2 separate regions of the Homo sapiens genome follow, and region 1 is linked to region 2. The links come from fine-mapping of genetic effects on gene expression. A gene starts in region 2. The other region holds a variant in brackets. All regions are shown on one strand. Distances are between the middles of the regions. Region 1 has its middle 2.7 kb from the start of OR5K2. Region 2 holds the start of CLDND1 (claudin domain containing 1).

Region 1 (2,924 bases), 22 kb before region 2:
TACAAAGCGGGCTTTGATAACCAGCCCACTCTATAGCTTACAACATGTGCATTACAGTTAAGTGTTTAAGATCATGTGAACAGTCAACCAACGAACTCACTTATATCCATGAGCAACAAAAATGGCAAGTGAATTTTGAGGAAGAAAATGTAATAGCATGTGGGGGACATTATTGTAGTTAGAATGAGGTAGTCAGGAAGTGATTGTGCCAATAAAAGTGAATATTATATTTCCAAATAGAAGTTGTTGTTAAATGATTTAAACATTTAAATAATTAAAATCAGAATGTCAAATTTCAAGATAGGTTACATTAAGTTTTATTTACTCCAAAACCTACATGCATAAAGATACCATATCATAAAGTTCTAGACAAACATTTCAAACTTCATGTAGATCTGAAGAGCCTTCATTGTCAGTGAGTTAGGCTAAACTTCTCTGTGCCCATTCCTGAGAGGTGAGGAAGGGGTTAAACAATGGAGACACAACCTTTGGGTATATTATATACAGACATGTAAAAAAGTGTGATTGTGGGACTGTGGACAGGGCTTATCTCAAATATTTTCTTTTATTCCTTCACCATTGCAAAACTTAAAGTCGTTTAATATGGATAGAACCTAATAATCTTATGTGACATCATTAAAGAGATACTTTCCAATTATTCACTCTACATATATTTATTGAGATTCTGCTATGTGCAAGCACTGTTCTAGATGCTGAGACATATTAATGACCAAGACACCACTCTTTTCATCTTCTTAAATAATAGAACATTGCCATTATTTTAATTACTAACTTCTGGAACAAGGAGGACCCATAACAAGTAACAGAAAAATTCTCCCTTCCACCTCCTCTCTTGATGCTCTGTGGTCACATCTAAATTTCCAGAAGGCAGTTGTCAGATTGCAGTGGGCCTCAAGCTAGCCAGCCACCAGAGGCTGGCATCACATGGAAAATCAGCATGCTGAGTCTATATAGAAAAGGGAGTAGAAAACAGATATATTTCTAGATATAATTCCCTAAATCATGAATGAAAAACTATAAAAATATAGTGTATATTTGTAACCTCCAAGAAAACCTAACCTAGTTCATTCCAATTATACTCAGACATTTCAGTATTTCCTTGCCTGTTTCAAATTTAAACCCCATCAGTTGAGTTTTTGCCTAATGCACGTCCATCAGCATCACCAAATGTACTTGGATACTTACTATGCGTCCATGTGCTAAGCTGTGTATACACATTACCTCATCCAACCCTCATAAATCCTGTGAAAGAATTGCAATTATTATCCC[T/A]TGTGACAGGTGAGAATATGAAGCACAGTATGGTTGAGTCACTTGTTCAGTGACCCACAGGAGTCTGCATGACCTGAACCCCAGGCTGCCTGACTACAAAAACTACATTCTCAATTATTACATAAGAAATCACAAAAGGTCACCCAGAGATTGCACAGAATCGTTTATCCCACGCAATGCAGAACAGCATAGTGTTCTTTGGAAAATTAATTTTAAGAAATTTAAATATCAGGAGAATTTTTATTTAAAATTTTTATTAAAAATTTTTATAAAAGCAAAAATTGACTTTTCTTGAAAAAGTGGCAACAATTCTTATGTCACCTCCCTGGCCCCTCTGAACATTTAAATTTATAACTTTGCATCTTTGCATTAAAAACTACTGCCTCTCATCATACTTCATTATTTCAGTGCTTACTTACAGTAAAAATATTTACCAAGTTGTAGTTGTGAATTATAAAATATGCTGATTTGAACAATTTCTCAATGTTTCAGCTTACCTTTTATAGTGAAAACATTAAAAAAAAGAAAAGACCAAAAAGTTCCAGAAGGGATAATTTATTAATTCGTTTGCAGTCAATATATAGTGGGTTAAGAAAAAGCAAAAATAACAATAAATAAATAAGCTAAATACAGAATTTTTTGGGCACCTAATGAAATGGTGGTGTGTTTTGGGGGTGTGTATTTCTGCTAGATGCCATTTCACTATGCATTAAGTATGCAAGGTAGGATTCAACTACTATCAGGAGGAAAGATGGGAAATTTTGACCTGTTTGTTATACACCAGAGCAGAAAAACTGGGAAGAAATACTCAACCTACAAGAAAAATAAATAGATTTAACCAGAAAAAACTTTACATTTTAAATGCCTGCATTGACTTCTTCCCTGGTTTCCTGAGTCCAGCTAGGTCAATTTTATAATAAGAGGTCCCAATTTTCATCTTCTCAGAGATTGCATCTGTTGGTTGCATCGTCCATGAGTGGAAATTTTACAGTTCAAAGAAAAAATAAGGGTTTGGAGATCATATTCACTGGAGAAGAAAAGAAGATGAAAAAAAGGATGCAGTTCATTTTAAGTTCTGAGGGTGGAAGTAGATTCGAGGGTGATTTCAGGGAAGTAGATTTGTCTTTTCCTCCAGGGAATAATCAAGGTTCTTCCCAAATCCCTACAACCTCTTTCCTCTTCTCCTACTTGGGCTTCCCTGTTTGCACGCATGCGTGTGCAGGAGTGGCTGTGTGCTTGGACTCAGCTCCAGCTGGAAGCATGCTCTCCTTTGTCACTGTTGGAGAAATTCAACAGTACAAAAATACAGTTGATGACTTGATGAAAGGGCTGCACCTTCAAGCCATAGATGCAGCCCTTTTGTCAAGTCATCAACTGCATTTTTGTACCGAAGTTAACAAAAAAAGAGATAAAATATTAATTGTTCCTTTAAACCTTAAGAAAACCTTAAAAGAAAAAAATAAGCCAAATACATTATTTTAAAAAGAAAATCTTATACAGTAAACAGTTAACTGTTGAGCTGTACATTCTTTATAAAAAAATTATTCAGTTTTACTGGGCAGGAGATATAGGTATGAACTTGATAGAAATATGGTAGAACAATAATCAGTATAATTCATTTTAAGCAAATATAT
Region 2 (2,924 bases):
ATGTTTTTGGGTATGGTGATACACCGTCTCCACAATCCCACTGTGCCATTGTATCGAAAAAGTGCATCATTATAAGTCTTTTCATCTGCCTCATCACTAATGAATTCATCCCAGATGCTTTTATTCAAATCACTGGAATTTTCTTGAACTGGACTTCGATATTCATACCAGAAGTCTGTGCCAATGGAGGCTGCCATGTAGATGGTGGAAATGAGGCTAAGCACACAAGCAATTACAAATGCTGTAGCAAAACGGTTATCCATTCTGGCATTCAGACTGCTCTGTTTAGAAGTTGAAGAAAGAAGATAAGTTAGAGTTTACGGACAAATAAGAAAGATTATTTTGAATTATTCCAAATGCACCCTTTACCCAATTCCCCATCCCTTCGTACATATAACCATTAAGAATTTTTTTTAGAAAGCAAGCATGTTTTTAATTAAGCTTAAAACAAAACTCATTCTCATAAAAGTACTTATTGAATGCTCACATACCCAGGATGCTACGGAGACAGAGGTCTTGTTCTCTAGTCTATCACCTGCATACTAAAACAGACAACACTGAAATGGACATACACATTACAGATACAAACAATAGACATGCCCATGGTCAGCAGTGTACCGTGCACACATTTTAAATTACAGACTGAATTTTTGCACGAGCTGCAGAGGATTAAGTGTTCTGGGTTTGAGTGTTAAAAAGGCACAGGAAAAAGAAGCAGTGGAAATTGGCTTCTCCCAGTTTCCTCTGAAGAGGGAAGCCTCCTAAAACAAAGGTAAGAGTCAGGAGCCATACAGAAAACAGAGTTGAAGATGTTTGTTAACCCCGAGGGAAAGGTTGTTCTAGGTGTATAAAATAGCAAAGAGAACAATAACATGTAATAATGCTAGATAGCAATCTCTCCCTAATCCATTAAAGCTAAGCCAAGCTTCTTTACGCTGCCAAATGCTTCACTCCTATCTACTCTCCCGATTCCTTATACTTCTGAACCTCCTCAACAGAAATCTTGCTCTCTCCCTAAATCCTCAGTGCAACATACGTCCGCAAAAACTAAATGATCCCTCCTCAGCCAGACAGAAAACTCTCAACATATCAACACTCCCAAGGCGTGGACAGGGCTCAACGGCAGTAGTAAATGGCCGCGGTAAAATGACTCAAGGCAGATCGCGCTGAGTCAAATACTACACGGCAAGTATACACCGTGACCGCACCAAACACCTTACAAAGGTTCATGAAAACAGACTCGCAAACTGGGGTTGCTGAGTTTGGAAAATGGGAAGTGACTCAGGAAAGATAAGAGCAATGACAACGAAAACTCAAAAAGTTGGATTTGTATTTTGATTTTTTAAAAATCCCCCCTTCATCCTGGTGCTCTCAAATGACCTTAAAGGGTCCCAGCACTGGGAACGGCGGTTCGTCCAAGCCGGACGCCTGCAGCAGCCACCTCCTGGGCCTCACGGCGGGGCCGGAGAAGGCCAGGGCTGGGGCGGGGCAGCCGTGCTCGGCCCCGGGCCAGGGTCCCCCGGTACCCGACCAGGCCCCGCCCTAGAGGGCTCGGCCCTGGGACAAATCCGCCGCTCGGAACCCGCCCAGCCCGACCACGCCCGGGAAGGGGGCCCCTCTTCAAACCGCCGGGAACATGGAACCGCGACGCGACCCCTGCCCGGCGACGCAGGTCCCGCTCACTCACCGCCCATCCTCCTGCTCCGCCAGCTTCACCCTCTAGCTCAGACCACAGCACCCTACTCTCCCCGCGCCTCCTCTGACGCACTTCCCTGCAGAGCCCGCCCCCTCCATAACTCCCGCGCCTCCGCCCGCCCCCACTCCGGGCCGGGCCGCGGCCCGGGGCCGAGGGGCCTTGTGGGAGTTGTAGGAGGGACAGACTGAAAGCTGTCTGAGGCGGCGATAGGCATTCCTGGCGCCGCGCGCGGCGCATTGTGGGAGATGTAGTTCAGCTCCTCAGGGCAAGCCGGTACGCAGAAGGGAAGTCTAGGCTGTTGGATTCTTGCATTTTAGGGAGGAAGGGAGAATGGTCCAGAAAGTAAAGCGGGCCTGTTTCCGGTCATCTCGAGTCAATGACCGTGACTTGTATAACTTAGATCTGACTTTTAGGCCTGTGCTTTCCCTATCACACCACCCTGCCTCTAGATCTAAGTATAAATGAACAAAAATGGGATTCTACTTGTGAAACGTTGACCCATTTTATTTCCCTCTCCCAGAATCCCTCCCATTGGAGCAGAGCATCCTTCTGGTTTTATTGCATAAGTTTAGGCTAAGAAGTATGTGACCTGGCAGACAGTATCCATCAAGAATGTAATGATATTATTTGGGTTTCATAAAATGTGTTTGTAGCTGCCTTCTTTTTATGACAAGTGATACTAGTTTTCTATTGCAGCAATGTTGTTCCTTTTAAATTCTTTTCACTTATTTTAAAAACTATTAAGTTAATAATACTGAGGATACCAGATATGTCAAAAAATGAATAAAAAATTGTGGGTATAGTAGGAAAAAGACTGAAATTTGGGGAACATCACTCAAGCAGATAAGGTCATGGACAGCATTGGAGATTGCAGATGATGTGTGGCACAGGGGCAACAATGATTCTGAACCCTCAGGTTTAACACAGAAATTCATGGACAGGAAGCAGGGACATCTTAACAATAACATGAGTGGAACTATTAACGTGGCCTGGGACCAGCAAATGGTGGATTTCTCAACAGTAACCGACAGAGAAAGCTGACTCAAGGACCAGAGGGGCTCTCAAACCCCCACTCTGTCCCCTAATGCCTTGTAATTTAGCATAGGAGAAAGATGGGAGCTGCAAGTTGATATTAAATTTCTACCACTTTGACAGATTAAAGGCATGATATGTTTCTCTATCTGTACTTACATTTCTTTGACCTGAGTGGGTGAAACTGATATTCATA

What was found. PIP is the estimated chance that this variant, and not a neighbour inherited with it, causes the effect. A credible set is the group of variants that fine-mapping cannot tell apart.
Region 1: its variant is the best candidate, but not a certain one, in a credible set for the expression of CLDND1 in esophagus mucosa (GTEx, PIP 0.79).

What each region holds. Positions count from the first base shown.
Region 1 is chr3:98,498,955-98,501,878 of GRCh38, forward strand. No RefSeq gene overlaps it. Among named protein-coding and RNA genes, the nearest start is that of OR5K2, 2.7 kb to the left of the region's middle. The variant T/A (reference allele first, on the strand shown) is at 1,291.
Region 2 is chr3:98,521,162-98,524,085 of GRCh38, forward strand. CLDND1 (claudin domain containing 1) reads right to left here and starts at 1,741. Exons shown (of 5, transcript NM_001040181.2): 1 at 1,688-1,741; 2 at 1-281. The coding sequence starts at 263. CLDND1-AS1 (CLDND1 antisense RNA 1) reads left to right here and starts at 1,409. Exons shown (of 2, transcript NR_198998.1): 1 at 1,409-1,672. RefSeq lists silencers at 1,188-1,297, 1,348-1,987.